Linked DNA regions of Homo sapiens. The protein of the gene in region 2 purifies or fractionates together with the protein of the main gene of each other region. This does not show direct contact. Each region holds a gene or a part of one and is shown on either strand. Other genes may lie near its edges. The genes, in order: PTPRS, IFNAR1, BTRC and AP2M1.

Region 1 (7,920 bases), on a different chromosome or scaffold from region 2:
AGGCCGTGGGCTGTGGCAACACAGAAGTGCCCGCACGCAGCCTCTATGCCTACATCCAGAAGCTGGCCCAGGTGGAGCCTGGCGAACACGTCACTGGCATGGAACTCGAGTTCAAGGTGCCAGCGGGGTGGAGGCTGCTGTGGGCGGGGTGGGGAGGAGGCCCAAAGAGCCGAAAATCAGGCCCGCCTCGAGCAATGGGGACTAGAAGGTGGTGGCAGGGTGCCCCTACCTACCTATCCACCATTGGTGCTCCAGCTGAAAGCATAGCCTTCCTCATCCTGATGGTGGCCTCTGGCTTCCTCCTCCCCACAGCGGCTGGCTAACTCCAAGGCCCACACGTCACGCTTCATCAGTGCCAATCTGCCTTGTAACAAGTTCAAGAACCGCCTGGTGAACATCATGCCCTATGAGAGCACACGGGTCTGTCTGCAACCCATCCGGGGTGTGGAGGGCTCTGACTACATCAACGCCAGCTTCATTGATGGCTACAGGTAGGTGCCATGCCTTTCCCACCTCAGGGCCCCAGAAGGAGCCCATCTCTACTCTCAAGAGGCCTCCAGTCTTGTGGGAGACAGAGCTGGGGAGATACTGGTAGCCCTGAGCTGTTTAAATACACATCTTTAGATGTATATTTAACTGATGGCTGCTGTCCGTGAATCTTTGGGTGTGTGTTTAACTGATGGCTGCTGTCCATAATGTGATTCCATCTGTTCTATCAGTGGTTCTCAATTGGGGTAATTCTGACACCCTGAGGATATTTCTTATTTTCATGAGTACTACTGGTACTGCCTGGGTGGGGACCAGGCATGCTGCTCAGCATCCTACAGTACACAGAACAGCTTGTCTCAGAGAACAATCCAGCGCCAAATGTCAATAGCACTGAGATTGAGAAATCCTGGCAAAGGAGGGGAGGGTGTTCCTGGCAGAGGGTGCCACATGTGCAAAGGCCCGGGGCTGAGAGCTTGGCCCACGCAAGCAACTGAAAGTAGGGCAGTGGCCCTTGAAGGAGATGGAGGGAAGAAATCAGGAGAGGTTAGTGGATAGTCCCGCAGCTTTGTCAAGGGATTTGAATTTGTCATGAGACTGGTGGTTTCCCCACATGCAAAATGGGATCACCAGGAGGGGAAGTGGTGCACCCAGCAGCCATTCCTGGCAGGCAGTGGGGTGGTAGGTGTAGCTGTCACTGGCTTGGTCCTGACCCTCCCGGGCAGCATCAGGTGAGTACCACGCCGGGTCTCCCTGCCGGCCCTGGGCTCATACCCCCAACGCCTGCAGGCAGCAGAAGGCCTACATCGCGACACAGGGGCCGCTGGCGGAGACCACGGAAGACTTCTGGCGCATGCTGTGGGAGAACAATTCGACGATCGTGGTGATGCTGACCAAGCTGCGGGAGATGGGCCGGGTGAGCTAGGGGCCACAGCAGGGAAGGGCGAGGGCCAGACTGTGGCTCAGACAGCGCTGACCACGGCCGCCATCTCCTCCACAGGAGAAGTGTCACCAGTACTGGCCGGCCGAGCGCTCTGCCCGCTACCAGTACTTTGTGGTAGATCCGATGGCAGAATACAACATGCCTCAGTATATCCTGCGAGAGTTCAAGGTCACAGATGCCCGGGTGAGTGAAGAGACAGACTGGCGGGAGGGGCTGGAGCCTTAGTGATCTGGAAAGGGCTGCCCTGGTTGGTGATGGATACAAAGGCCAAGGGTTAGGCATAAGCATTGGGAATCAGGAGAAGTGTCAGCTGACCAGTTGGCCACTTGCTTCTACTGCCACATAGGTGGAAGAGAGGGTCTTATCTCTGTGCTGACCCTGCAGTGTCTCCACTCACTAGGGAACATGGCCCCAGGGGATGATATTCAAGGAAGTGAATGGGGCTTTCCTCTGGAAGCAGCCACCTGTGGAGGATGATGTTAAAGGGCTGAAAGGGACTTGAGGGATTGAGGGTGAGGGGTGGTAGACGGTGGACAAGGAGAGTCAGATGGTGGGGACTGGCACCGTTGGGTGAGGAGAGATGAGTATGGATGGTGTTGGCTCAATGAAGGACTGCAGTGTCAGGTGGAGGGAGAAAGGCCAGGTATTAGGTGGCAACAGATGAAGACTCATAGTGGAAGGTGGCCCTGTTGGGTGACAAAGGATCAAAGTTAGTGGTGGAAGATCGACGATGGTAGAGAACGCAGTGAGGGGATGATAGAGGATGGGGAATGTTGGCCAAGATGATGCCAAAGGATGGTGAAGGCTGCTGAATGAACAGCAATCACCGGGCATTGTGCTGTGAGCAGTGCAAGATGGTGCCCTTGGAGGGGTGGAATCTGGAATTGGAGAGAAGAACATTCGCATAACAGGATGGAGAATGTCAGTGGAATGTGGTAGTTTGGGTCAGTGAAGGGTGATGCTTTATCAGTGATGGATGGAGGAAGACAGAATTGGAGAAGGGCAAATGTTTGGCCAGCAGGGGGTGGAGAAAATCAATGGGAAATACTAGGACTAAGAAAGGACAGTAAACAATAGTCAATGGTATAAACCAATGGGTGGTACAAGATTGAGGAAGATGGGGTTGGGAAAGGAGATTTTAGAAAATGTAAAACATCAGGGAAAGATGGTACATTGGATGGCAAATGGTGGCAGAGGATAACAATTTTGGATGGCACCATTTTGATGGTGGAGGATGGGATTAGAACAAGGCAGATGATGGGGAATGGAGAATGTCAGTGGAAGATGGTACCCTTGGATGGTGGAGAGTGATGAATTGTTAGTGATGGATGGTGGAAAATGGCACCATTGAGTTGTGAAGGATGGAAGATGGCAGAGAATGATGTGGTTGGATGGCACCACTGGGTGGTAGGAAAGGAGACTGCAAAGAGGAATGGTTGAGTAGTGGGGAATGAAGACAGTCAGTGGAAGATGCCATCACTGAATGGTTAAGGATGAGTTACCAAGAGGGGATGGTGGTGGATGATGGAAGATGATGGTGTTGGGTGGAACTCGGGACGGCAGAAGGTAGTGAGTTACCAGCAGTGGGTGGTAGCAGTGGCACTGTTATTGGATGGTGGAAGATGATGGTGTTGGATGGTGGACGATGAAAGATGATGGCACCATTGGGTTGTAGAAGATGAGTCATCATTGATGAGCTATGGACAGTGATGGAGTTGAGTTGTGCTGTAGGGCCCCGAAATGGCACAGAGTGGAAGATGACAGAGGATCATGGTGAATAGGAGCTGGGAAGGGCAGAGCTGGTTGCACTATGGGATGGCAAAGGATGGAGGATGGAGGTGCTGGATGTCATACAGGAAATGTGGGGAGAGGAACAGCTGGGTGGCAAGAAGTGGTGAGGATGAGGTTGGAGCATCTCTTATGGAAAGCAGTACCATTGGATTGTGAAGGACGGTAAGTTGTCAGGGTAAATGAATGGCAGAGAGTGTACAAAATGGGGGTGAGGGCCGGGCCTGGTGGCTCATGCCTGTAATCCCAGCTAATCGGGAGGCTGAGGCAGGAGAATTACTTGAATCACTGGAGGTGGAGGTTGCAGTGAGCCGAGATCACGCCATTGCACTCCAACCTGGGCGACAAGAGTGAAACTCCATCTCAAAAACAAACAAACAAACAAAAAATGGGGGTGAAGATAGGGAGGATGGAGAAAAACCCCCATGGCCGCTGCTGACCTGATAACAAGATTGGGCTCTCTGCACTCTAGGATGGCCAGTCCCGGACTGTCCGGCAGTTCCAGTTCACAGACTGGCCGGAACAGGGTGTGCCAAAGTCGGGGGAGGGCTTCATCGACTTCATTGGCCAAGTGCATAAGACTAAGGAGCAGTTTGGCCAGGACGGCCCCATCTCTGTCCACTGCAGGTGAGCTCCCTCGAGTGTCCCAGCTTTTGGCCCTGCTGGGGAAACTGAGGCCTGGTGGGGACAGCCCCAAGCTTAGGCTGTCCCATCTGGGCTGTTAGAGTCCTCGGGGAATCGGGTGGTCAGATCAGGGCTCCCCAGCACCTGCCCCTGAATGGCTGTGCTCACTTTACTGCCACCAGTGCCGGCGTGGGCAGGACGGGCGTCTTCATCACGCTTAGCATCGTGCTGGAGCGGATGCGGTATGAAGGCGTGGTGGACATCTTTCAGACGGTGAAGATGCTACGAACCCAGCGGCCGGCCATGGTGCAGACAGAGGTAAAGATGGGACAGGGAGGGGAGGCAGCCTGGCCTCACGCCCCGACTGCCCCTAAGCTCCAGTTTCCTCCTCTGTGAGATGGGTACAGCCACCTGGGACTCTCTGGGTCACTGTGGGTAGACGGTCCACAGACCCCTCCCGCACTGGAAGGGGACCAGTAACCCTTTTAACACAACAGTCAGCTGAAGGTCAAAGGCGAGAAGTGGCCCTTGGAGTGGACAGAGATGGGCTCATTGCAGTCCCCAAGTCACAGCAAGTCTGTGGCTCAGCCTGGACCCTGCCAAGAACCACTGACCCCCAAGTCCAACCAATGTACAGATGGGGAAACTGAGGCCCAGACTCCTAGCTTCAAGGGGAATGTTCCAGTGGAGGGGGTTCTGAACAGCAGCCATGTCTTAAAAGATGAGTAGAGGGGACCCGGCGTGGCAGCTCACACCTGTAATCCCAGCACTTTGGGAGGCTGAGGTGGGAGGATCGCTTGAGCCCATCCTGGGCAACACAGAAAGACCCCATCTCTACAAAAAAAATAGAAATGAGGCTGGGTGTGGTGGCTTATGCCTGTAATCCCAGCACTTTGGGAGGCCAAGGCAGGCAGATCACCCGAGGTCAGGAGTTTGAGACCAGCCTGGCCAACATGGCGAAACCCTGTCTCTACTAAAAATACAAAAATCAGCTGGGCATGGTGGTACACGCCTGTCATCCCAGCTACTTGGGAGGCTCAGGCAGGAGAATCACTTGAACCCAGGAGACAGAGGTTGCAGGGAGCCAAGATGGCGCCACTGCACTCCAGCCTGGGCAACACAGCGAGACTCCGTCTCAAAATAAATAAAAAAGAAAAGATGAATAGGGCCTCCAGGCAGACGGGAGGAGAGGGCGTTCCGGGTGAAGAGCCTGGCTGTGTTAGGCAGAGAGGTGTGGCATAGCTCACTTCATTGTGGGAGGGCCGTGGGGGCCAAAGAGACCTTCTGCAAGAGACACGCACAAGGCTGAGGAGCTTGGCCTGCTCCTGAGGGCGATAGGGAGCCCTGGGAGGCGTTAGAGCAGCGGAGGTACTAACAGGTCACCTCTGCTCCCCCAGGATGAGTACCAGTTCTGTTACCAGGCGGCACTGGAGTACCTCGGAAGCTTTGACCACTATGCAACCTAAAGCCATGGTTCCCCCCAGGCCCGACACCACTGGCCCCGGATGCCTCTGCCCCTCCCGGGCGGACCTCCTGAGGCCTGGACCCCCAGTGGGCAGGGCAGGAGGTGGCAGCGGCAGCAGCTGTGTTTCTGCACCATTTCCGAGGACGACGCAGCCCCTCGAGCCCCCCCACCGGCCCCGGCCGCCCCAGCGACCTCCCTGGCACCGGCCGCCGCCTTCAAATACTTGGCACATTCCTCCTTTCCTTCCAATTCCAAAACCAGATTCCGGGGTGGGGGGTGGGGGGATGGTGAGCAAATAGGAGTGCTCCCCAGAACCAGAGGAGGGTGGGGCACAGACCATAGACGGACCCCTCGTCCTCCCCCAGCGGTGGTAGGGGGACCCGGGGGGCTCCTCCCCGCTCTGCAGCCTGGGGACACTGGGCTGGGACCAGAATCCAGCTTTCTTTTAAAACTCTCAGTGTAACTGTATCCCGTGACATTTCATTTTTTTTAAATAGTGTATTTTTTTTTCCATTTTTTTTTTTAAGAGAAACAAACAAAAGACTCGCCAGTCAATGACTTTCAAAGAGAACTAACTTTGGCTTATTCATATTCTGTTCAAAGACAGTCTATTTTTTCACTGTAGAAAGCGTCCTTGTGTGATAGTTACGTTCGCAAACGCGCACGCCAGGCCCATGGCTGTACCTTGGCTTTTTTTTTTTTTTTTTTTTTTTTAATTTTTCCTACCATCAGAAAGTGTGCTTTGCTCACAGAAGAATGGGATGTCCTTTTTTCTTTCTTGGCTTTTTTTTTCCCCCTTTTTGTTTCATTTTTATAAATTAAATTTTCAGACATATCAAATACAGTTCTGAGGGTAAGGTCATGGGGGAGCTCGGACCCAGTGGCGTTGGGTGCGGTTGAGGGGGACGCTGCTGTAAGAGGAGAGAGATGACAGTGGTCCTCCTCTGAGAGCCTGAGCTGTCTCCCCGTCTCCCGCCCCCAAGGAGACAGAGAGGATCCTACTTCTTCGGGGACAGTGGCTGTATGGCTGTGCTGCCCCACATCAGGGACCCTTTCCCCCTGGGACTGTGGGGCAGTTTGGGAGCAAAACCAGAAGGACAGGCCCCCCTCTACCCGCCTACCCTGAGCAAGCGAGTTGTTCCTCTTTGTACAAGGGCAGGTCTGCGGTTACTTTCAACACTGTTTATTCCAGCGGAAGCAGCCGGGTGGTTTTCCCACCCCCGTGTATGTAGATATATCGACTTTGTATTAAAGGAAGATCGTCTGACCCCGGCCCATTGTGGAGTCTTTGTTGCGCCCCTGCCTGTCCAGTTTCATCCCTGGGGTGGAGGTCGGTGGGGTCCTGGAGAGCTGATCTCGTTTCCTTGTGTGAACAGTCAGAGGAGGAGTTGGCCCAGAGAGGTGGTGGTGCTTGTCCAAGACCACACACCGCTGAGGCGGGTGGATCACAAGGTCAGGAGTTTGAGACCAGCCTGGCCAACATGGTGAAACCCAGCCTGGCCAACATGGTGAAACTCAACTCTACTAAAAATACAAAAATTAGCCAGGCGCAGTGGCGGGCGCCTGTAATCCCAGTTACTCAGGAGGCTGAGGCAGGAGAATCGCTTGAACCCAGGAGTTAGAGGTTGCAGTGAGCTGAGATCATGCCATTGCACTCCAACCTGGGTGACAGAGTAAGACTGTCTCAAAAAAAAAAAAAAAAAAAAAACTCAAAACACCGATGAAGTGGCCAGGCCAAGATTTGAACCCAAGCCCTGGTCCTGTAGGGGCTGCCTCGTGTTCTCATTCTAATAAGTGACCATGACTGAGAATTCACCATGGGCCAGACACTCTGAGATAGAAGTTACCAGCCCCTTGGCCAGGCGCGGTGGCTCACGCCTGTAATCCCAACACGTTGGGAGGCCGAGGCAGATGGATCACCTGAGATCGGGAGTTCGAGACCAGCCTAGCCGACATGGCAAAACCCTGTCTCTGCTAAAAACACAAAAATTAGCCAAGCATGGTGGCACCTGCCTGTAATCTCAGCTACTCAGGAGGCTGGAGCAGGAGAATCACTTGAACCCAGGAGGCGGAGGTTGCAGTGAGCTGAGATCATGCCATTGCACTCCAGCCTGGGCGACAGAATGAGACTCCCATCTCCAAAAAAAAAAAAAAAAAAAAAAAAATCCCCATTTACATATTAGGAAACTGAGGCTCAGGGAGGGGCACACAATGAGTTTGAGGTGGAGCTGGGATTCGTACCCCAGCCCATCTCACCCGCAGCCCTGAGCATCACACGGTGCTGCCTTCTCGAAGTGCCCTGGGGAAGAACTGAGTCCGTGGAGGGAAGCAACAGGTTGGGGACACTCTGCTCCACCCCTAGGCCACTCAATGAGCAGATCCATGCACTGAGCCAGAATCACATCCCTGGGGATGGAGAGTGAGCCATTTTGTATCTATACCCTTGCCTGAGTCACTTCTTGCTTGGGCATAGAAGCCACCCACAGGAGCCAGAGATAGGATGAAAGAGCCCCCTATGACCTCAGGGAAGTTCCAGGAATGAGAAGGGGTGATCTTAGTGACACCAGGGACCCAGCTCAGGGAAGAATAGGACTATGTCTCTTAGAAACCAACA
Region 2 (8,115 bases):
GTCTCTGCATAAAAATAGAATTTTTCTTGGTCTTAGAAGTGACACCGATGAGTCACTCTTATGATGAGGTTCAACTGTTTTATGGCCTCAATTTGATTTCACATTGTATGTTCATAGATAGATAGAGATGCTTCTTGACTTACAATGGTGTTACGTCCAAATAAATAAGGTTGAGTCCTAGGGGCAATCAAGTGCTGGCTTCCTCCCTGCAGTACTCCTTGTGGTGACATCATCACAAATAATTGACCAGTGCCAGGAAGAGTCACCTGCCCAAGCAGTGCCTCTGAGCCCTGGGTAGTAACAACAGCAGCTGTACTCCCTGATGTGGTACCCCCTGCCCCATCTCCCACTGCAGGGGTGGGAAAGTATAGTGTATCTCAGCAGCTTTCCCCTCTGTGTTAACTGCATCATAACTGGTGATATCACCCTGGATCACCACCTGGGTCATGAATTGAGTGGTAGGATAGCCACTGATGGCACCAGTGCCCTCAGTCTGGACATCCAGCTGCCCCTCACACACCTGGATCACCCTGCGCATCACTTGACACTGGGGTCAGGGAAGGTGGCAGCTGACTGGATGCTGGCAATAGCCCCACTGGCTGGGTCTTCCCCAGAAGCCATTGCACCTGCCTGAATCTGCACTGTCCCCTCTGTCTAGTGCCCTTTCATTTCACCTTTCAGGACTTCCTTAAGCATTTCTCGCAGGGCAGTTCTAGCGGTAATGAACTCCCTTAGCTTTTGTCTATCTAAGAACATCTTAATTTCCTTATGCTTTTGAAGGGCAATTTTGCCATATACAGGGTTTTGAGTTTTTTGGTTTTGTTTTTTTTAGCACTTTGAATACACTGGTCTCCAAAGTATCAGGTGAGAAATCTGCTGATCATGTTATCAAAGATCCCTTGTGTATGACAAGTCACTTCTCTGTCTTTGGCTTTCAAAAGTTTGACTGTTTCTTGGTGTGGTCTCTTTGAGTTCACTGTACTTGGAGTTTGCTGATCTGTCCGAAGCTGAGAGTGGGGTGCTGAAGTCCCCAACTACTATCATATTGGAGTCTATCTTTCCCTTTACGTATAGTAATATTTACTTTATATATCTGGGTGCTCTGGTGTTGGGTACATGTATGTTTAGAATTGTTATATCCTCTTGCTGAATTGGTCCCTTTATCATTATATAATAACCTTCTTTGTCTGTTTTTACAGTTTTTGACTTAATGTCTGTTTAATCTGACATAAGTATAGCAATTCCTGACAGCTTTTGGTTTCCATTTGCTTGGAATAACTTTTTCCATCCCTTCAATTTCAGTTTATATGTGTCTTTATAGGTGAAGTGGGTTTCTTATAGAAAGCATATAATTGAGTCATTTAAAAAATATTCCGCACTTTGGGAGGCCGAGGCGGGTGGATCACGAGGTCAGGAGATCGAGACCATCCTGGCTAACACGGTGAAACCCCGTCTCTACTAAAAATACAAAAAATTAGCCGGGCGTGGTAGCGGGCGCCTGTAGTCCCAGCTACTCAGGAGGCTGAGGCAGGAGAATGGCGTGAACCCGGGAGGCGGAGCTTGCAGTGAGCCGAGATCGCGCCACTGCACTCCAGCCTGGGCAACAGAGCGAGACTCCGTCTCAAAAAAAAAAAAAAAGAAAAAAAAAAATATTCCGCCAGTCTCTTTAAGTATGGAATTTAATCCATTTACATTTAAGATTATTATTGATATTTGAGCCCTTACATTTGTCATTTTGTTAAAGTTTTCTAATAATATCCTTTGCCCCTTTCTTCCTCTCTTATTATTTATCATTGTGGTTTGATGGTTTGATAAGGTTTAATTCTTTTCTCTTTCTCCTTTGTGTATCTGCTCTATCAGAGAGTTTTATACTTTTCCATGTTTTCAAGATACTGACTGCTCTCTTTTCACTTCCAGATGTAGGACTCCCTGGAGCATTTCTCATAAGGCTGGTCTAGCAGTGATGAATTCCCTCAGTTTTTGCTTGTCTGGGAAAAACTGTATTTCTCCCTCATTCCTGAAGGATAGTTTTGCTGGGCATAGCATTCTTGGCTGTTTGAGTATATCATCCCATCCTCTTCTGCACTGTAAGGTTTCTGTGAAGAAATCTGCTGTTAGCTGAATGGGGATTTTCTTAAATGTGACTTGATGCCTTTCTCTTGCTATTTTTAGAATTCTTTCTCTGTCTTTGACTTTTGACAACAGATAATAATGTGCTTTGGAGAGAACCTTTTTGGGTTAAATCTATTTGGGAATCATTGAGCTTTCTGGATCTGGATGTCTGTATCTCTCTCCAGACTTGGGAAGTTTTCAGCTATTATTTCATTAAATAGTTTGTATATGCCTCTTACCTTTTCTCCTCTTTCTGTAACTTACATAGTATGAACGTTTGTTCCTTTAATGATGTCCCATAAGTCTTGTAGGGTTTCACTTGTTTTTTCTACAATTAAGTAATATCAAATGGTATATCTTCAAGTTCAGAGATTCTTTCTTCTGCTTTACCAAGTCTGTTATTGAAGCTCTTTATTGTATTTTTTAAATGTAATTCATTGAATTCTTCAACTGTAGGATTTGTTTGGTTGTTTTTCATCATGTTTTAATTTTTTTGTTGAATTTTTTGTATTGTGAATTGTTTTCCTGATTCATTGAACTATCTGTATTTTCTTGTATCTTGTTGAGTTTCCTTAAGATCATTAGTTTGAATTCCTTTTCCAGCAATTTGTTGATCTTCTTTTCATTGGGCCACCATTAGAGAGTTCTTACTTTCCTTTGGTGGTGTCATATTTCCTTGCTTTTTCATGTTTTTGTGTCTTTGTGTTGATAGGATAATTACCTCTTCCAAACTTTACAGACAGTGGCTTTCAAAGATAAAGTCTTTTATTAGCAGTTGGGTTTCAGTATGCTGGTTTCGAAGGGTGTGGTGACTGTTTCCTGACAGATGCAGTGGTATGGTAAAGCAGCTGCTTTACCTGTGTTCAATGTCAGTAGTAAATGGGTGCCTCAGGGGCCTAGGCTGCAGAAGTTTGTGGCAGTGGTAGTGTAGGTTGTTAATGTTCTCAGTGTTGAAGGCTTTTAGGATCCTCCTATTCTTGTCTTCCCCACAATGGGGAGACTCAGCCAAGGCAACACCTCTTGGTGTCAGGTCTGACAGGGGCTATATATATGCAGCTGCAGCAGCTCTTGATTCCAGATGAAGGTATTCAGAGTGGCTACTGGGCAAAGGTCCTAGGCTCAGGATCTCACAAACCTACTGAGACACTTGGTTGCTGAGGTGGGTTTGCTCTCTGTGGCAGGGCTTGGACGTAGTTGCTCACAGAGCCAGGATTTGTGACCTGGAGGTGCTTCCTGGCAGCTTAGGCCCAGAGAATGGGTTGTAGCTTTGATTCTACCCCTATGGGGGTCAGGGCATAGCACTGGCCTGACTATAAAGAAGGGGTTCTCTGGAGGTTTGGGCCTGGGGAGCAGGGTATGGTTTTAATTTGGGAATATGAGCTAATAGGGCTCAGTGGCAACACAGGTCCCAAGGGATGAGGCACCATGAAGTCATGACTCTAAATCTTGGAATAGCTAGGGATAAGCAGTACCCCAGACTGTGAGGCCAAGTGTAGCAGCAGCAGCAAGTACTACAAAATGGTGAAGCATAGCTGTTGTCTGGGCTGGGAATGGGGGGTAGGGAACAGCACAGTGATGACTCCACTCCTCAGAGTGTCTCAGCAGCTCAGGCTCTAGAGGACTAGTCCAGCTCCAGGGAAGCGGGGTACTACAGTTATTTGGCCTGTAGAACAGGGTGTCTCAGCTCAGCCACTGCTCTGTTTCCCTGAGACATAGGATACTACATCAGCTCAGCCCTGGGATGCATAGCTGCTCGGTTTGGCCAGGGCACTGATTCTGCAGGGAGTGATGTGCTCCTTCAGCTGAGGCCCGGGGAGTGTGACTGCTCTGGGTGGTTCAGGCCCTGTTTCCCTGGAATGCCGTATACCACTTCAGCTTAGGCACAGGGGTGCATGACTGCTCTGGGTGGCCAAGGTAGTGTGTTCCCAGGAAATAGGATACTGCTTCAGCTCTAGCCCAAGGGCAGTGGGGTAGGAGTAGGTGGAGTAGTTCCACCTCTGCTTGACTCCACAGGGAAGGGTGTAACAGCTGCTTAAAGTTTAGCTTAGGGATGTTGAGCCACCAGCCTGGCGTGGTTCAGATGAAAGGAAGCCATGGCTACAAGTCCCCGAAGCAAGACACACTCCAGAAGTAGTTCCAGTTCCAAGGTGGAGTGGCACAGTAGCTGTGTGGGCCACAGCAGGTGGAGCACAGTGTTGGCTCCTTCTCTGGAGGGAACACAGCTGTGCAGACTCTAGGCAGCTTCCTCAGCTTGGCTTAGTTGCTGTCTGGACTCTAAGGAACCCCAGTGGTGAGATCTGTTGGTGCCCATGGTGTAGCTGGGATCTTCTTGTTTATCTCCTTGCCATAGGAAGAAGTTCCTCCTCGTTCCCAGATGATCCTAGGAATCCTGGCATTTCCTCCCATTCTCCATGTGGCCATCCCACTTTTCTCTGCTCACTAGGATTTCTGTTACTTCTTTGATGCACTCTAGCACTCTTAGTTAAGTTTGCTAAAATGTAGTTGTTTATTTGTTGTTCTGGCTGTCTTATGAGGGGATGAGCAGAAGGGGCTTCTAGTTGGCCATCTTGCTAACATCACTCTCCCAGACTACATTGTGTGTGTGTGTGTTTGCTTTGTTTAATTGCTGTGTAATTGTTGTTAATCCTGTGCCAAGGATCAGCTTGAGCTATAAACTTAAGGTCTCTCCTGAGCCTTTCCCTAGGTATGTACAGTGACTTTCTAATTTTCCCCATAAATGCAGTTGTTTTTAAATGTCCTAGTCTTTAATATCCGGCTCCCAAAAGTGAAAGAGAAAAATGAAGCAGAGGGAGATTTCTAGCCCTTTAAATCCATGGGGCAGGGGAGTGAGTGGGGAGGGGGTTGTAACAATGAGTAAGGTGTAACAACAACAACCGCCCATCTCTTTGCGCTTTTGTGACGAGAAGGAGCAATGACCAATCAAGAGCACAGATCCCAGATATCTGGATGGTGTGTTTCTTTTTGCCCACCTGATTCCTGTAAGTTGTGTGCAGATTGCTCTAATAACGTGCACAGCTGTCTGCTAAGGGTTGAGAGGTGGAAGATGGGTAGCTGCTACTGTACTAAGAGCTCAAATAGACCAAAATTAACTGCAATTTACCATCTAAGTCTGTCCCCTGGAAGTTGCAAGCCTGCAATAGACTCCAGAGTTCCAAAATAGTTACATCAGATTCTGCCAGTACAATTCTTGTCTAGGTGAGGAGACAGATTCCTGGTGCTTTCTACTCTGCCATCTTCCCAGAATCCTCAAAAGAAGTATTTGTAAAAACTGCTTCTTTGTGTTAAACATAAATCTCCAACTAGATTGCAAGTTCCTTAAGGGCAGAATTTATATCGCTTCATACTTGATTTGCATTTTTTCAGAGTATCCAGCATAATGGTGCATTCACAGGAACTCCTTAAATATCATAAAGGACTGATCTCTCACTTTGATAAGTTATATATTTTTTAAAAGATCAGCTTTTAAATTCATTTATGGTTCCTACAATATTTCTTTTACTTCTGCCTTGGGGCAATCATGTTATCTTGTTGTAGACTTGTTCTACCACAGGGGTTCTTGTATAGAACTTTCTTAACTGAGACAGCTTCTTGCTCTTTCCAGTTAGATCTTATAGTATGGGGTCAAAAGGGGAGACAGCTGAGAAAACACTTTTTTTTTTTTTAAACTTAATGTGGTACCCATCAGGTCTCCCCATCCTCAATTTTCTGTTTCATACTTGGAGTCTCTAAAACTTCATCCCTGAATAGAATACATCACATCCCCTTATCCCACTCTAGAATTCTTAACTTGGTTCTCATCCATTTGTTAGAATTTATAGATTCTATGCAGCCAAAGGGTAGCAACTGGGTTTACAGAGTTTAACAAAAGATCTGATGGCATTTGTAGTATTTACAATATCTTGTGCAGAATATTATAATTCTAGTAATTTTGGGCCTTGAGACAAGAATAGAAAATGTTATAGGGTACAGCTAGTGATTTCCTCAGGGAGAAAAAAAATCCTTTACTGCTAAAAGAAGGAGACCCTGAAGTTACAGGCATGTTGGCATTTGGAAGACCAACAAATAACTGACTGATAAATGGACAGGGGCTTGGAAATAAAGTTATTAAACAGGATTTTAGTTTTCACAGATTTTGCTCTATTATTATTGGCAATCTCCTTTTAATAATTTTTTCATAAATTGTTATGTAACATTAACATACAATATATTAATTTACTAGTATATTAAAATGTTTTATATTAGTATATTAACAATTAATTACCCCACATGTAAATGTATAAATGGACATTTAATCTAATATATATATAATGCATTTATAATTTTGGTTGCTTTCAACCTTTCACATTCATTTTCACGACCAAAATGGTTTACTATATCTTTAAGTCTGACATAAATCCAAATATAGATATCTGTACAAATATGTAAGTAAATGTCTTCCCATATTTTGGATAGTTTTCTTAATCTAGAGTCCTAGAATTGCATTTACTAGGCTAAAAGGTACATTTATACAACTTCTGAAAGACTGAGCAACATTACAATCTCACTGAGATAACTTTCAGGATCAGCTTGAGCTGTAAACTTAAGGTCTTGAGTTTTCAACATGATTTTTTTTGGGGAAAAAGTAGATAGTTACGTAAACCAAAAATAAAATTCTAAGTCCCCCAACCATCAGAATGGACCCCTTCTCCTGACCAAGGGCATTCCAAAGCTAACCTGAAAAACTACTTCAGGCCATGATGCGAAGTGAGGTTTGGATATGCCTCATTATACCCTCCTCTCTTCTGGAATTCAGAAAAAGCTAACCACCATTAACAACAACACAGACGTTAAGTTTCACAAGAAACAGTTACAATCTATTCTCTCTGAAGCCTGCTATCTGCAGGCCTCATCTGCATCAAGGGTGTCCACTCTTTTTGCTTCCGTGGGCCACACTGGAAGAACAACTGTCTTGGGCCACACACAAAATACACTAACAATATCTGATGAGCTAAAAACAAACAAACAAAAAAACAGAAAGAAAACAAACAAAACAAAAACCCCTCATGTTTTAAGAAAGTTTACGAATTTGTGTTGGACTGCATTCAAAGCCATCATGGGCTGCACGCGGCCAGTGGGCTGTGGGTTGGACAAGCTTGATCTGCATGATAAAATTTTGGTCTCCACAACCCCTTAGGACATCCCAGACATTCCTTTCCATTGATTTCAACCAATTACCAATCAGAAAATCTTTAAATCTACCTATGACCTGGAAGCCTTGCTTTGAGTTGTCCTGCCTTTCCAGATCGAACCAATCAAATGTACATCTTAGATGTACTGATTGATATGTCTCCCTAAAATGTATAAAAGCAAGCTGGACCTTGACCACCTTGGGCACATGTGGCCAGGACCTCTTGAGGCTGTGTCATGAATGCATCCTTAACCTTGGCAAAATAAACTTTCTAAGTTGATTTCAGACCGGTCTCAGATATTTTTGGGCTCACAGTTAACTGAAAGATACTGATAATTAGGCCCTTAACATACAAGTGGACAATCAGGAATTTAAATTGTTTGGCCTTTGGGAAAACAGTCTAGTCTGGTTAAGCCCCAAGGCTATTAGTCCAGACTCAGGATTTGACTTCCCACTCCTCCACGGACTGGCCTATACAGCCTCAGGCAAGTTACTTGATCTCTCCGTTGCTCAGTTTCCTTGTCTGTTAACTAAGCATAACAGTATCTACACTGCTCTGAAAGCTTAATGAGTTTATACCTTTAAAACACTTAGATTACTGCCTGGCACACAGCTAAGAGCTTAAGAAATGATAAATGCCTATAAATTATATCTTGCCACCTGTCCGCTAACCTAATTTTAAATTAATTTCTTAATGCACACCCTCCTGGAATGTCAATTTTATATGAAAATTCTGGGAAAGCTTTTTTCACATCAAACCAAACATGAGTTTAATGCAAGTTTTTCATAAACAAAAGACTTCAAAGAAATTACTA
Region 3 (8,115 bases), on a different chromosome or scaffold from region 2:
ACAGTTTGGCAGTTTCTAAAAATTTTAAACATACACTTACCATATGACCTAGTCATCTGCTCCTAGGTATTTACCTCAGAGAAATAAAAGCAAAAAGCATACATTCATCCCAAGACTTCTACATAAATGTTTATAGAAACTTTGTTAATAGCCAAAAACGAGAAACAATCAGTGAATGGGTATAACCATACAATAGAATACTACTCAGCAAATTTTCAAAAGAAATGAAATATTGATATACATCAGCAACATGTAGTGCCACTTCACTATAGCCTGGGTGACAGAGGAAGACCCTGTCTTATACATACACACATAAATCCAACAAGGAAGACAAGAAATGTAACCTCTTTCTCTTCTCCAGAGCCAAGAATGCCTAAATGATGACAGTCAGGATTTAGAACACTGGGCTTCAAATGCTTGCTCTCATCTTTTCTCCGAGTGGTGTCTGTCCACCCTGTTGCTCCAACTAATTTTCTAATGGAAGCAGCATTTATCAATCTGGGCCCTTGGCTAACAACATGATAAATAATTTAGTGCATTCCTCCTTTTGAATCACTTTTTTCCCCAAATGTCAAAAGGGGGTATATGGGGAACAAAAAAGATGGGCTCAAGTTGCTGGAGGCACTACCTCATGAATAGGCTGCAGAACTAAGGGGTTGACCAGGGGGATTCATGCAGATTCCCAGGGCAGTTTTTTTTTTTTTTTAAGACAGAGTTTCGCTCTTGTTGCCCAGGCTGGAGTGCAAGCATGATCTTGGTTCACTGCAACCTCCGCCTCTCAGGTTCAAGTGATTCTCCTGCCTCAGCCTCCTGAGTAGCTAGGATTACAGGCACCTGCCACCATGCTTGGCTAATTTTTTTTTTATTTTTAGCAGAGATGGGGTTTCACCGTGTTGGTCAAGCTGGTCTTGAACTCCTGATCTCAGGTGATCCATCTGCCTTGACCTCCCAAAGTGCTGGGATAATAGGCATGAGCCACCGCACCCGGCCCCCAGGGCACTTTTTGAAGGCACAGGTGTACAGGTCCTCAGATTTTGGACAGGTTCCAATTTGAATAATTATATTCTCTCTCCCTTAGTACCCCCTGCTGTTTCTGGTGGATACAGAATTCTTATTCACTCCCTGCACTAAACTGTTGTGTAGAGTTGCTGTGCAGCTGTTAAACAGCTGCCACATTTCTCTCCATATATAGTCTCTAAAGCATTTTTGGATGAAAGGAATTATATAAACATATTTTATTGTCATGTACTGGTTGCCTTACCACTTAGTTGTAGGTTTTGTGAGGTTGTAACTATTAAATTCAAATCCATATTCCACAGCACATCAACGTTTAATTTCTTCCCCCACCTGCTCTCCAATGCTCTCTAAACAGCAAGGCTCTTACCACAAGGGTCCGTAGACAGAGTGTCCCTGCAGGAGCACGGGGGTCCAAAGCAGCCACAAGATCCCACACTTTAATTTTTCTAAAGATCAAAAAGGGGACAAAAATGTTAGTTAAAAGCAAATGTAAGAGAAGGCAGGGAAGAATAGCAGAAATTCATGGCAATAAATATGGATGGTGAGTATAGTTCAAATGTACGTGATTAACCTACAAATGAGAAACAGGCTAGCTTTAACCAAACTGAAGACAGTTAACAGTAAAGTTATACCATACTTTGGGATCAAGAGGAGATCTTGTACATTAGACCTTTTAATGATATTACACAGACCTAGAAATCTACAACTGTGAAGCATCCTCTTCCTGGGCACTTCTAAGAGTGGCCCAGGTCACATGTACTGAGGGACTGGGGTCCATGTAAGAGCAATGGAGTTTATATAAGCAAGCCCTCATCTTTTGATTTAAATAAGATAAGTGTAGCTCTTCCAAAAATCTTTTAATAGGCCATGTTTCCTCAAGGTACATAGCAGACAAATTCCAAGACAGGTGGGTACAGATCAAAGCCAGGACAATAAGAAAATATTGTCTTGACCAAGCTGGAACATGTCACCACACTCTGAACAATTTCCCAAGGTTGTAACAGTGATGGCTGTCCCAAAGCAGAAGAAGTGAGCAGTCTACACTTCCTGCTGCTTGCATTGGCTAATGAATGTATCAGTGTAGTTAACTCATGAACTAAAATAATGTTGTTAGTTTCTGATATTTAAAAAGCTGCCAAAATCAGGCAGATTGACAAAAAGAAATGATAAGAGTTCTTCCTAAGTGAATAACTATTTTTTTTTCTTTTTTTGAGACGGAGTCTCGCTCTGTTGCCCAGGCTGGAGTGTGGTGGCGCAATCTTGGCTCACTGCAACCTCTGCCTCCCTGGTTCAAGCAATTCTCCTGCCTCAGCCTCCTAAGTAGCTGGGATTACAGGCGCCCGCAACCACACCTGGCTAATTTTTGTACTTTTAGTAGAGACTGGGTTTTGCCATGTTGGCCAGGCTGGTCTCGAACTACTGACCTCAAATGATCCACCTGTCTCGGTCTCCCAAAGTGCTGGGATTAAATGCATGAGCCATTGTGCCCAGACTACTTTTGTTTGAATTTACTCTGTGTTTAGGATTGGTGGACATGGGGTCCATTCACAAAATTAATGGATTCCATAACCACTAGAAATTAGAAGAAAATAAAGATGACTAAACTCATAAATGAAATGCTAGGATGACAAGTGATGACAAGAGAACTGTACTCTTAAAAATTACTCAAAGAGATAAAAAACCCAAGAAATCAAAATTCAAGATCTTACCACACTAAGTCCCCAAATACTGCCCTCTAGTGTTTCTGTTTTGTTAACAGGTTACCCTTTTACATGGGTAGCCTGTTAACACTGGGTTTTTCTTGTTCTTTGCTTTACAGGGCAAAACAGTCAAATACATAACCAAATAACCAAAATATGAATGACAACCATGTGCAAACAAGTATAATAAAATGAATGGGAAGAATATTTCAGGACACTAAACCAAGGAGAGGTAAATACACGGATTAAAGAAATATGGTATCAGATATTTTGTGTAAAATCTATAAGCTTTTAGAAACAAGGAATGGTTATGTTTAACACCATAAACATAAGGAAGGATTAAGACGTAGATTTTCTCTTTTTTACACTCTGTTAGCACACTCACCCATCATAGGCCCCACTGACTATCCTCTTGTTATCAAATCGAATACAACGCACCAATTCCTCATGGCCTTCTAACACTCGTAAACATGCACCACATTCTATGTCCCATAATCTGGAAGAGAAAATTAAGTCAGGTGAATTTTCACGTATTCTTTTCTAAGCCTGGAATGTTATAACAATACACCTCATATGCCTTCTAAAAATTCATAAAATAAAATCAATCACCACCCACACAGATATGTACTGCTTTCAATGTAATTTATTTCCTTTCTGCTATATAACTCACACAGAAATATGTAGGTTTAAGTTCAAATGTAAAATGTATTTTCAAAGCACAGGGCTTTACATAATTCTGTAAACAGGTTCTTCCAGGCATAAAAACGAATTCAATGCACGCAGTTGCCTGAGAAGGAAATGACCAAGCTAAGAAAGCAGTTTCCTGAAGTCACCAAACTGAAAGAGATACAGATTATCAGTGATGTCCTGTTCTCACAAAGCACCTCCCCCTCTGCCACGGCAGACACTTCTTTCACCACTGTCCAGGACAGCTCTTCTCAGAGAATAGAAATGCAAAGTCAGTTCTCAAGAACTTTTGTGTACTAATTATAAAAACTGTACGTTTTCAGAGCAATTCAAGTGATTTCTAGGAATAATTTCCTTAGATATAACAAACAGTAGCTCTTTTTTAATGGCCTTTTCATCCTTTTAATACTTCACTGAAGGGAGAGGATGGATAAATCTTCCAAATTATAATCATATCTATGTCATTCATCTTTGTGAAGGGAAAACCCCAAAAAGGACTTCCAACTGTGAAATCTTCATAATTTCAAAGACAGGTAACTCTCTGGCCAATTATGTAATGCTAAGACAAAAATTACATAATTTCTAGTAAGGAAACAAATCTTTCTTTTCATTTCTTAAAAACAATGGCAAAGAAAAGGCTGTTAGCTGTTTATTAGCACTTTTCAACGGTAGACAGGAGAAATTTAAAAAGAAGGGCAACAAAAGGCTTTGCTGTGCTGCTTCTCTGCCTGGGGCAAACTTCTGACCTGTAAGAAGCTACAGAAAGGAAAAACAGTTGATTATAAACATAACAAAATTGAAGACTTGTATGATCTGTGCATTAATAATGAATGGGAGCATAATATTGATCCCTTATGATACAAGGCACTTGCTGCTCACCTGATAGTGTTGTCAGATGAGCCACTCACTACCAGCCTGTCCCTGTACTGCAAACAGGCAATGCCTCGTTTGTGTCCATTTAAGGTCCTTACAAATTCACAAGTACTTGTGTTCCATACCTGAAAAAGAAAATGGCATTGAGCAGTTGATTTGGTGCTTTTATTGGTAAAATCTATGGCAAATGGAGTCTTAGAGAAGCAGAAAACAGGACTGAACCATTAGAGGGAAGTCTTCTCAAACAAATAAAACAAAGGACAATTTAAATTCATGGTAACAGAGGCTAATTTGCAGTTGGCTGTTACCACATGAGAATTCCTCAGATTGATTTACTCTTCTAGGGTTAGTCTCTTCTCACACTCACCACTATTTATAGGAATAAAATATCTAGGATAAATTGTCACACAACGTCTCACTTATTACACCTTTTCACTTGTAGACTAGTCTCTGAATTAAATATTACATTTTTCTGTAGCAACGTTTAAATATGAAATTGCCCTTGATCAAATTTTCATATGAATTCCCCCATTCTAAGTTGGAAACTTACTGAAAAATGCCTTATTACCTTTATAGTTCTATCCCCAGATGCAGAAACAATGTACTTGTCATCAAAGTCTACAACATTGACAGCAGCTCGGTGTCCGACCAGCACCCTCCGGAGGGTAATGTCAGTTGGGGAGGCCATATCCCATACAGCAATGGAACGATCTTTGGAGCAGGTCACCATCATGCCATTATTGAAACGCAAGTGCAGAACTGCTTCACAATGGTGAATCAACGTGTTTAGCATTTCACCTGTATTTACATCCCACACTCTGGAAGTGATAGATGAGATTTAGATGGTACTCAAGCTACAATCTGTTACCTATATTTGACCATCATGCGCCCTTCCACCCCTTATATTTAGAGAGAGGGCCAGACTGGGAGAGTGGGAGAAGGAAGGGGATGGGATGCTGCCAGTGTGTCCTTAAGACATACTGCTTGAAATATGGGCAAGTTGTGGAGGGCAAGGATGAAGTGGCAGCCACTGTCACCTAATAATTTGGCCCAGACTTGAAGACTGTAAAACTTCTCACATTCAATTTGATACCATTAGTAAGATACATTTTAAATGAGGAATCTGATTAATAACAATAGCATTAGTGCCCATTCCAATGATAGCCCTCAGGAGCCAGAAATGAAATAGGCCAAGATGCTTCTGTCACATACTTAGTAATGTGAATTTGAGTTTGATTACCCTGGATCTCAGGTTTTATCATAAAGGTCAAAGGCCAAGATAACCATGACTCTAATTCTAAGCCCCCATTTCTGTGTTCTGAAGTGGGTAGGGGTTTAAAATAGACCCCCCATTGTAAATATGGGCTTCACAGCAGAGTGTGGGGCCCTTGGATAGCTTGAGAATTTTGTGTGATTATATATTTTGATTATTCTATTTTTGTGTATTTACTTAAGGTTTTATAACATGTTATTTCCTTTTTTCCAGTTTAGCCCCCTTTTATAGAATATCATTTTTTCTTTATCTTATAAATGATGTTAGCACCTGCAGTGTTTTAGATTCTGTGGGGCACTCACTCCACAAGCACCAATAAATGTTAAATGTCAGTAACTACAAGGGCCAAGTTTGCTATGCCTTGCTATGCCTTTAAGTCAAAAGACAAAAAACAGGAACCGTCTTTTCTATTCACAGAGGATAACTTGGAATGGTAAACATTTAACTTCAGAGTATCTAACAATGCACTTAACCGCTTTTTTCCTAGGTCTATTTTTTTTTTAAAGTTACTTTTGATGCATTATGTTTGCTAAATCCTTTAGCTTACGGCAAAATTCCTAACAGAGGTTCCCAGCAGTGCTGCTGGTACCCAGAACTCAAGCTATCCTGGACTCCAGCAGTATAATGGCTGTGTCATCAAATCACTAATGCCTCTGGAAATTGAGGGCCCCTACCTGAGTGAAGCTTGCAATTAAAAACTGCAGGGATGGCAGGGGAGGGGCTGGCAAAGAGAGCACAGCTCACCTGTACATGTTTCAAAGGAGATAATACAGACCTGCACTACAGTTACCACTACCTGAAAGGAAGGCTTCATTGCATTCATATCATTCCCCCGTGAGGTGGTTTTTGTAAGGAATGCAAAGTTTACCATAAGGATAAGAAAAGTTTCTGTAATAGATGATCCTCCAAATTAAAATAGAATGTGTAGTTTCTTCAATGTGCGAAAATGTAAACTTACCTCAAGCATTTCTAAATCAAGTTTTCTAGTTCTAGACTGACAGAAATGATGGGGACCTGGTGGTTTATTCTTCTTTAGTTTCAGAACTGTGCCGATATATACAAAATTACTATCTATGACAAAGAACAGAGCAGAGCTGATATTTCAGAGTTCAAAAAAGCATTTGAAATTTTCTACCTGACCGTGGAATCCGATGATCCTGTTATGATCACTCTCTCATCATACTGGAGACAGAGGACTGAACCTGTATGGCCTGTGAGAATTCGCTTGCATTCCAATGTGTTTTTATCCCAGATCTAGGATGGCAAATAAGATCCTTTTGATCAATGTGATGATGGGGTGCTGTGGAGACTTGTTGGTCCTATTACGTGTCTGATCCCCCAAAATAATCAAAGCCCAGAGTAGTGTGGAATGCATTTTCTATAGGTATAGCTAAGCGCGCGCGCGCGCACACGCGCACACACACACACACACACACACACACACACACACACACATATAGCTTCAGTACTAATGCAAACTTTTATCCTTTTCATTAAGGAACAGGGTAGTCTATAATTATGTGATGGCCAAAAGAGTAACAGCCCATTCAGTGCATTTCAAGAAGAGAATTTAACCCTAGGACTACCCGTTTGTATAGTGGGGAAGCTGATGTCTGTCCTTTAAGGAAATGATTTTGGCTTTGGGACTGGAAACAATCTAAAATCTTCACTTACTTTCTAGAAATAATGCTTAGAGTTTATGCTTTAGACTGCGCTATGAATGTGGTCACTCTTGCTCCCTCTGCTACCTTTCTACAACTGAATAGACCTCACCTTGATTGTGTTGTCTCGAAGGCCGCTTACTATTTTCTGATCATCATACTGTAAACAGTAAACTCCTTTGCTTGTTTCACTTCGGCAGTGAATTCTCTGTAAACTATGTCTTCCACATCTCCAATTAGATTCTATTGTCTGAGAAGAAGGAATGGGAAAGAGGCAGTGTTAGGAAACACCTAGAATCAAACTCTTTTTAGGCTTTAATGACAATCAATGGCTCAATGCTTTACTCTATGGGATATACACAACTTAGGGAAAACTAAAAAATGTCTTTAAAAGGCTACTATCTATATTTATAAAATATTCTTCCTTTTGCAAGGTAATTAAAGGTTGTTTCCTAGAACTTCCCTGCCTATAATTTGTTCAATTAAATAATAAATCTGGTGGAAAGAGACTACTCATCAAGAGAAGAAAAGCTACGAACTACGTGAGGTTATACACTCAGTGCTCTTACATATGTGATGGCCATTGCTACTGATTGCTACTGATGAACTTCTAAGGAGGTTCAATTCAGAAGATATTTAAATATGAGCTTATGAGTACAAGTTTACCAGTCACACTGCTATGTATGAAGGGATCAATCTCTTTAACTCTCTCATCTACTTATTAGTAAACCATTTTTTAAAGCTTTAAAATTTTGCCTAGCAATTTATTTTACCTACCCTACTCGCCTGTAAAGAGATTGATTTTCTTTTCCTTTTCTTTTTTTTTGATGGAGTCTCGCTCTGTCGTTCAGGAGGGAGTGCAGTGGTGCGATCTTGGCTCACTGCAACATGTGCCTCCCAGGTT
Region 4 (7,852 bases), on a different chromosome or scaffold from region 2:
GTCCCCAGACCCTACGGGCTTCTCAGCCTGGTGGCCAGCGCCACCCGCCTCCCCGCCGCGACCGCCTTTTCACTGTGTAATTCAGCCGACCTTTGTGAATTAAGCCCATTCAGTTCTTCCACCACCCCAGGGCACGACCAAATCCACCGCCAAAGGGCAAGAAAACCAGGACAACGTGGCCTGTATAAATTATTCCCTACCTACACCCTGAGCAGACTTCTCTGCACTCAATAAATGCCAATAAAAGGCTATTTCCTTTCACCGATTCCCTCGGGAAGTTAGGAATTTCCTCCAAAATGATGCTACTGCTTTATATTTAACGTGAATATTCCTCCAATTGGTCTCTAAAAGTGGCACCGAAAATTACATTATTACCCATTCATCCCTTTGGATTAAACATTGCCATCATGAGGCATCAATCCCGATATTGAACCATTTTACAGGAAATACAGGTAAAGAGGAATATGTTAAGTGACTTCATGGGGACAACAGGCAAATTCTGATGTGGTAAACTACAGAACTCTGGTTTCTTCCACAAAATTGCAAGACCTGAAGGGAAACATCAATTTTTAAAATTTGAGGAGCATTAACCAACCACAATGGACCTTATCTGGAAAAATTTGATAAGACACCTGGTTAAGTGAACACAAACTGGATGTGATATTAAGGAACTGGCCACGCATTGATCATAGTTGAAGCTGGGTGATGAGACATGGAGATTCATTATATTCTTTTTTTTTTTTTTTTTAATTTGAGAAGGAGTTTCGCTCTTGTTGCCCAGGCTGGAGTACAGTGGCGTGATCTTGGCTCACCGCAGCCTCCACCTCCTGGGTTCGAGCGATTCTCCTGCCTCAGCCCCCGAATAGCTGGGATTACCGGCATGCACCACCACGCCCGGCTAATTTTGTAATTTTAGTAGAGACGAGGTTTCCCCATGTTGGTCAGGCTGGTCTCGAATTCCGGACCTCGGGTGATCCACCCGTCTCGGCCTCCCAGAGTGCTGGGATTACAGTGTGAGCCACCGCGCCCAGTCCATTATGTTATTCTCCTTGCAAATCTTTCCTCCTACCACCCAGTCAGCAAGATTTGGGAAGCTTGGGTAAATGATGGAATTAAAAGGTCAATTTCTTAGGATGGCTACAAGACCAAATGTAAACTTCACACTTAATTTATGCTTAATCTAATTAGAAAACATCTGCCTAAGAATTAGAGAAAGAGCTGGGTGCTGTGGTGGTGCGTGCTTGTGATCCCAGCTACTCCAGAGGCTGGGGCAGGTAAGATCTCTTGAGCCTAGGAGTCCGAGGACCAGGGGGAATAAAAAGGAGCTAGGGAAAGAATCTATCCCCAGGGTACTGGGGCCCGCTGCGGCTGCATGCCCTTGAGGCTTTCTAAGAGGAGCCAGGAAACCTGGGCCCAGAACCCACAAGGATAAGGGCTTGGATGGCCCAGGAGGGGCCTAACTGGGACAAGACAAGGAAAGAGCCTTTAGAGTATTCAGTACAGAAAACTGCACGGAGAGCAACACCAGTTCCCTCCCCATGTAGCTCCCACATCAACACTAAGCCAGCAACTCCACTCTACAGAGTTTATTGGGTTTGTAACTGGACGAAGTCACACGTGTACAAAATGAAGCTCACACTATCCCAAAGCAGAGTAGGGACTGAGGCCGGGGATCCATTACTGGCCTTTGGGGGAGCTCTGAGGTGAGGGGCAACCAACCCTCCCACTCCAGAGCTGTGGCCACAGGGGTGGGAAGGAAAGGGAACCCACCTGGCTTTGGTCACAGAACTCAGAGCCTGGCATTAGGCCAGGACAGACAGGTGGATGGGAGAGCAGGAGCCTCAGAACTCCCCTGCCCAGGGAGCCCAGGGGCTGCTCCACCGGTCCCACTTGTAATGTGCTTGGCCCAGACCTAGACTCGGGCTGGTGCAAAGGGAAGGCAGCAAAGCAGGAGGGAGGAGACACTGATGTGTGGTGGGGGAGGGAGCGGCACCTGGACCTGTGGAGGAGGGTGGCTGGGGAGGTGGGCTAGCTGCCTAGTGGCAGCTAGCAGCGAGTTTCATAAATGCCACTGCGGCCAATGTAGCGCACCCATTTGATGACATCATGGTCGCTGTAGTTCAGCTTCGGTTCAAACACCTTCAAGTAGCGCACCTTGAGGCCAGAGGGCGCGAATGGCACCTGGGCAAGGAGAGCTAGTTAGAAATGTGGCCTTCCTCTTACAGCCGCTCTCCTCTGGGAAGTCCCGTTGCCCTGCCCTACTTCATCGCTACTACAGGTGTTTGTATGGCTGGGGTCCTGAAAGAAGCTGGGGCGGCGTGGGACCTTCTAAGAGGTGACTAAAGAAGAAAGCCCTACCTGTGACACCTTGAATCAGTTCCTTTAATCAGCAGGAGACAGCAACCAAAGAACTGCTTTAGAACATACTTATCCTGCTCAATATTATGAACTTAAAAATAAGGTGGAGAAAATTATGTCTAACATGCGCAAAGCAAAGTCAGCCCATTATCCTGTCTGTAAGTAAACTTTGTGTCTTACCTGGCATTTAAACAATCTAAGTTTTTTGAAAGAACTGTGTTAGGACAAGCCGAGAGAAGTAAAAGATTTGCCTCATCACAAATAGTAATTTCTACTAAGAGGCTTGAAAGGGGAAGAATGGATCTATGAATTAAAGCCAGTTCTTCTTTCTAGGCCTCAGTTTCCTCACCTCTAAGGTGCAGCAGTTTATCGGAATGATCTCTAAGAGGTCTTCCAGCATACCCTGGCATGACTCTAGGCCCCTCCTCTGCCATACCTCAAAGTTCATGGAAATGGGGGGTCGAGCCCATTTCTTCTTGTCGTTGGTAGGCAGAAGCTCAATCTCTGCGCTGATCTGCGATTCCTTCATGCCTGCCATGCGCTTGATCCTGGGAACACAGGGACAATGGGCAGCCCATTGGGGCTTGGAGGAGTTTCAAGGGCAGTTGCCCATTTCAAGCAAGGAGAGAGCCCAGGAGCTTGCAGGAGGTGCCAGAACAAGGAGAAGTGGTCAGGACCCTGCTAACCACTTGCTATGGAAACTTGGGTCTACTTCTTTAGAACAACAGGATGCAGTTTCTGCCTAGACACTTGGACATGCTATCGTTTGCTTTGTCTGCTTCACAGATACATTACAAAGGCAATGTATTCCCTTTGTAATGTATACATTACAAAGGGAAATGCCAAAGCATCTTAAAAAATAAGCACGTGCATGAACCCAAATGCAGGCGTGTACATACTCACATGGAGGTATAAAGACTGACAGTACAAGCAGAGGCTCCTAGAAAAGCAAACAGGCACACTCCCCTGCCCCTCATTCAGAAGGATCAAAGCTGAAAACAAGAGGGTATACTGGGATCTTGAGCCCTGCTGTGGCCTAATGAAGGAAAGACTCACTTCCACACGATGGCATTCTCGCTGGCCTTGTACTTGGCCTTCCCCTTCATGCAGATCACCTGCACCCCGCTTGTGTTCAGTGGGGTTGGGATCCTCACCTAGAAGTGACACACCTGTCAGGGAGCTCTGTCAAGCTGTGACATCAGCTACCTTTATTCCTAGGGACAAGTTCTTCCTCCTCCTTGAGCCCCCTGTCCTCACCTCGATCTTCTGAGCCAGCAGTGAGGGTTTAAAGTTGGACTTGATGACCACCTTGACCTCCAGTTTGGTGCGTCCCACTTCTCGCACTAGCGGGATCACCCGGAAGGGAAGGATGATGTCCTTGGTTGTGCGATACCTTAAGGGATGGGAAGCAAGGTTACCAAAGAGCTGACCCACTTCCTCTCCCCAGTCTGCCAGCAGCACTAGCTGCCTCCTCACACCCCAATGGCACCTCATAAGCTCAAACTCTCCATCTGGCGGGATAAAGCTGATGCTGCGTTCAGAGTCAAACTTGCTGAGTCGCACACACTGGTGGAAGGTGCAGTCATCAATGGCAATTGATTGCTTCCCGCTGCAAGCAGGGGCAGAAGAGGTCTCATTGGTACAGGAGAATGACAGCTGTCATGCTGGGAGACCACTCCACCCCAGGCTGGCACCAGAGACTATGAAAAGCTGCTAGAATGCAGCTTTGTGACTCGGAGGTCTGCCCCAGAGCTTGGGATGAGAGGGAAGCCTTGCAAGCTCATCTCTTGGGGCTCCTTCTGCTAGGGACCTGGGTGTTTCAGGCACACTGGGCAGAGGCTGTCAGTATGTACAGAAAAGGCCTTGGTCCTAGGGACCAAACAAAGGGGCTTGCTCTCTGAGGACGATCCCCTCATCTCTCGTAGCACTAATGTCAAGAGCGAACAGCCAGGCTTACCGTCAGGAACAGAGTTTGCAATTACAGTGGGAATGAAATCCAGAAGAAACTTGTGGTTCACTAGACCCCACTGAGCCCTCCAAGGGACACCCTCTCCCACCAGCTCTCCTGCCTCAGGCACCTCTTGCTTGTTTCATCAGCTGTGCCTTTGCCCTGCTTTTCAATAACAATCTTGTCATTCATCCCAAACTTGCATTCAGGCATGCCACTCAGGTAGCTCTTCATCACCACCCGGCCCGACACATGGGCACTCAGCACCTGCCCTGGTGATGGAACAGATAAATGGGGAGCAGCGGAGTCAGGCAGGCAGGCCCAGGATCCTGCCCTGGGCCCCCTCCAACTTTGTCGTGAGAGGGACCTCACCTTGTGGGGACATGAGCAGGTTCACACTCTCCAGCACATCCAGGAAGAGCTCATTCCGACGATACTTGATACCCTCTCGCCGCCAGCCAATCTGCCCAGTTACCTGGCTGGTGATCTGTGACTGCTCTTCTTTTGTCTACATGAGGGCAGAAACAAACAGCAATGGCCTCACTCCTCTGTCCCTTTAATCATCCTGTCTCTATCCCCACTCCACCCTCATTCCCCATCCCTTCTAGTCCCCACCTGTAATCCATTTTCCCCTATAAGCCCCAAAGGGCAGGGCCTGGAGAAACAAAGCAAAGCTGCAAGGGTGGAAGCTGAGGGAAGAGCTTACCTGATGCTGGAGGCCGCAGGGCCAACGAGGTGCCCACATGAAGCAGCAAGGGAGGCAGAAAAGGAGGAGAAAGCTATGAGGCTTGGATCCTAGAGGAGAGGGCCCAAGCTCGCTCCTCCTGAGGAATACCAGGCCTCAAGACCAGGCCTCCTCCCCCACCCCTCAGTGCAAAAGGAAACTGCTTGAGCTGTATTCCTGGTAATAGAGATGCTGAATTGGCTGCTCCTGCAGTGGGAGGACCACACAGAGCAAAATCGGCCTGCAATCATGGCAGGAGGCTCAGGCCAGCACTTCCTGTCATGGGAGGGCTCATGAGTCAGCTCAGACAAGGCTCAGGGGCCAGCTGAGATGAAGGGAGATTGGACTCCACCCTGACTATAGTCTGCACAATTCAAGTACCTGACTCTTGATGCCCTGCTGCGTGATGAAGGTTTTCAGCGCGCCTGTCTCGGAATTCTGTGGGTAGCCAAAGTCTAGAATCTCTGCAAAAAGAAGGGAACCATCAGCCCCTGGACAGAGCTTCTTCATTCCAGCCCCTACTTGGGCCTACACATCTGACCGGCACAGCTCCCAAAGCCCATGTGGGATCATCCGCAAGAAAGTCTTCTAGCTTTGTAGCATTTATTCTGTGATTTGTGCTTTACAGGAAAACAATTCAAATGTTTGATTTTTTTCAAATAGAGAAATCAAGGCCAGGTGCAGTGGCTCATGCCTGTAATCCCAACACTTCGGGAGGCCAAGGTGGGAGAATCACTTGAGCCCAGGAGTTCAAGACCAGCCTGGGCAACATAGCGAGACCCAGCTCTACAAAAAGTAGTAAAAATGAGCCAAGCATGGTGGCATGTGCCTATGGTCCCAGCTACTCAGGAGGCTAAGGCTGGAGGATTGCTTGAGCCTAGGAGGTCGAGGCTTCAGTAAGCTGCAATTGCACCACTGCACTCAGCATAGGTGACAAGAGCAAGACCCTGTCTCAAAAAAAAAAAAAAAAGAAAAGAAATCAATAGAAGAGTCACATGGCCAGTGGGTGGCAAGTCAAGAAGCTTTGAGCTGTTTTCTCCAGAAAATAGACATTGGGAAGGTGGAAGTATTCACCTTCTCTTAGATCACACTCTACAGAGGAACAGAGATAACAGTGCACCCCAAGAGGCTTGTAATATCTCACTCTCCCCCAGGCTCTGAAGCAGCTGCTGAGATGGAAAACTGGGTGGACAGTTAGTGAACTAAGGTCCAAGCCACAAAGGAAAGAGGATGAATACAGGAGGTTCAGCCACCAAACCTGAGTCAGGTTCCTAGCCCCTTGGAAGATCACCTGCTGGCCTATTTCTGTGTTCTACTTCAGACCAGCCTTCAGGTCTGGATGTGAACTGGCCTTCTGAGGGGCATAGAGATCCTAGCCCAAGAGACCAAATACTCAGGAAAGAAAGTTCAGAGTGTACCAGAGCCTCGGACCTACACCCACCTTCAGGCCAGGCCCAGCCTGGTTTTTTCCCACCCTACGCCCGCTGCCGTGCCAGCCCGCCAGCCTCACCATCCAGCAGCTCATATATGAGCACAAAATTGTTCTTGATGTTTTCCTCGCTGATCTTGCCAAAGTAGGCAGCCATCACGTCACACATCTTATAGAGGAATTCGAAGACCATGGCAGCGTTGACATTCTGCTTGGTGACTGCTGCCAGCCAAATGTTGGACCGCTTAACGTGGAAGAAGCTGGTGCGAGCAATGTTGGTGACGGGGCTGCGCACCTGCTGCCGGGCATGGATAACATTGACCCGAAAGGCATCCACTGCGTTCCTCCTGAGGGAAAAGAGTGCATAGGGCCTGCTCAGCACCCAGGTGAACCTTACCCCATAAGGATCAACCACAGCTGCTAACAGCCCCACCCTCCTTTCTGCAGAAGTCTGACACACACACTCCAAAGAAAGCCAATGCCTAAACCACTGGAGTGGTTCCCTTCTTATGACTCCCTGTGGAGGCATGGGAAGAGTGCCTGAGCTGGGCTAGTGTCTAAAGGCCACAAGAAATAGGGAAGTCAACTATTAAGGCTGATGTAACCTTAATAAAGTGAGGTTCATCAGGTTTAGAGACAGATATTCCTTACTCCCAGGGCTGGCCCTAATTTCCCAGCTTTATCTAGCTTCCCTGTAAGCTCCCAGGTCCAGGACAGAAAGAGACACTGCTTCTTCAGTCCTCCCGCTAGTGATCCCACCAGTGGGGAGGGCCGACTCCTCCAGATGTTAGACAAAGCCAGCATGGCTTCAGAAGTCACAAAGGAGGGAGAAGTACCAAGGGGCCATGGAATTGTGCTACCCATTCTTGCCCAGGATCCAACTCCAGAGCAAGTTGAGGGAATGAAAAAGGATGCAGGAAAACGATGGGGGCAGGCCCCCACCCACCTGTACCTGGGCAGCAGCTTGAGAGGCCGCTTACCTATTGCTACGGCAGCCAATGAGATGGGATGAGAGAAATGACGCCAGCAAGAAGAGGAGAGTGATAGCAACGAGAGAGAGGGTTAGACACACAACACACCGGGAGGGCGGCACACACCGTGAGGCAGAAGCAGACAAGACAGGCAAGGCGGCGTGTGACCTGGCCTTGGCTTGCCCAGTCCATCCAAGGCAGGAGGGGGTCTGGGGTGGGGGGTGTAGCCAGCCAGGTTCAGACAGGCCAGGCCTTGCCACAGCTGCAGCTCTAGCTCATGCCACACCACCAGCCAATGGACAAACGCCCGCAAGGGCCAAGCCAGCCCATCAGCCAGGGAGCCAAATGAAGAGCACTGCCACAGGCCCATTCTGTGACTTTATCTCAAGCTCTCTGAGGAAGAAAAACAGGCAGCAGGAACC

Evidence for each region.
Region 1: the proteins of IFNAR1 (region 2) and PTPRS purify together in Homo sapiens (co-immunoprecipitation; 2 studies listed by BioGRID and IntAct, with this or other methods). This does not show direct contact.
Region 3: the proteins of IFNAR1 (region 2) and BTRC purify together in Homo sapiens (affinity purification with western blotting; 5 studies listed by BioGRID and IntAct, with this or other methods). This does not show direct contact.
Region 4: the proteins of IFNAR1 (region 2) and AP2M1 purify together in Homo sapiens (affinity purification with western blotting, with the first as the bait; 2 studies listed by BioGRID). This does not show direct contact.

The regions. Positions count from the first base shown.
Region 1 is NC_000019.10:5,204,161-5,212,080, reverse strand, and holds the end of PTPRS (receptor-type tyrosine-protein phosphatase S isoform 1 precursor), read left to right. Parts: coding exon 1-116; intron 117-312; coding exon 313-491; intron 492-1,275; coding exon 1,276-1,402; intron 1,403-1,486; coding exon 1,487-1,612; intron 1,613-3,689; coding exon 3,690-3,844; intron 3,845-4,023; coding exon 4,024-4,159; intron 4,160-5,238; coding exon 5,239-5,307; 3' UTR 5,308-6,573; downstream 6,574-7,920. UniProt on the Homo sapiens protein: Cell surface receptor that binds to glycosaminoglycans, including chondroitin sulfate proteoglycans and heparan sulfate proteoglycan.
Region 2 is NC_000021.9:33,327,150-33,335,264, reverse strand, and holds part of IFNAR1 (interferon alpha/beta receptor 1 isoform 2 precursor), read right to left. Parts: intron 653-8,115; exon of another isoform or gene 164-652; intron 1-163. UniProt on the Homo sapiens protein: Together with IFNAR2, forms the heterodimeric receptor for type I interferons (including interferons alpha, beta, epsilon, omega and kappa).
Region 3 is NC_000010.11:101,531,641-101,539,755, reverse strand, and holds part of BTRC (F-box/WD repeat-containing protein 1A), read right to left. Parts: intron 7,462-8,115; coding exon 7,324-7,461; intron 6,805-7,323; coding exon 6,686-6,804; intron 5,096-6,685; coding exon 4,846-5,095; intron 4,403-4,845; coding exon 4,284-4,402; intron 3,214-4,283; coding exon 3,103-3,213; intron 1,464-3,102; coding exon 1,385-1,463; intron 1-1,384. UniProt on the Homo sapiens protein: Substrate recognition component of a SCF (SKP1-CUL1-F-box protein) E3 ubiquitin-protein ligase complex which mediates the ubiquitination and subsequent proteasomal degradation of target proteins. Recognizes and binds to phosphorylated target proteins.
Region 4 is NC_000003.12:184,177,811-184,185,662, reverse strand, and holds the end of AP2M1 (AP-2 complex subunit mu), read right to left. Parts: intron 7,446-7,852; coding exon of another isoform or gene 7,440-7,445; intron 6,807-7,439; coding exon 6,541-6,806; intron 5,495-6,540; coding exon 5,412-5,494; intron 5,019-5,411; coding exon 5,013-5,018; intron 4,815-5,012; coding exon 4,679-4,814; intron 4,579-4,678; coding exon 4,437-4,578; intron 3,968-4,436; coding exon 3,848-3,967; intron 3,752-3,847; coding exon 3,616-3,751; intron 3,513-3,615; coding exon 3,415-3,512; intron 2,907-3,414; coding exon 2,795-2,906; intron 2,182-2,794; coding exon 2,047-2,181; 3' UTR 1,572-2,046; downstream 1-1,571.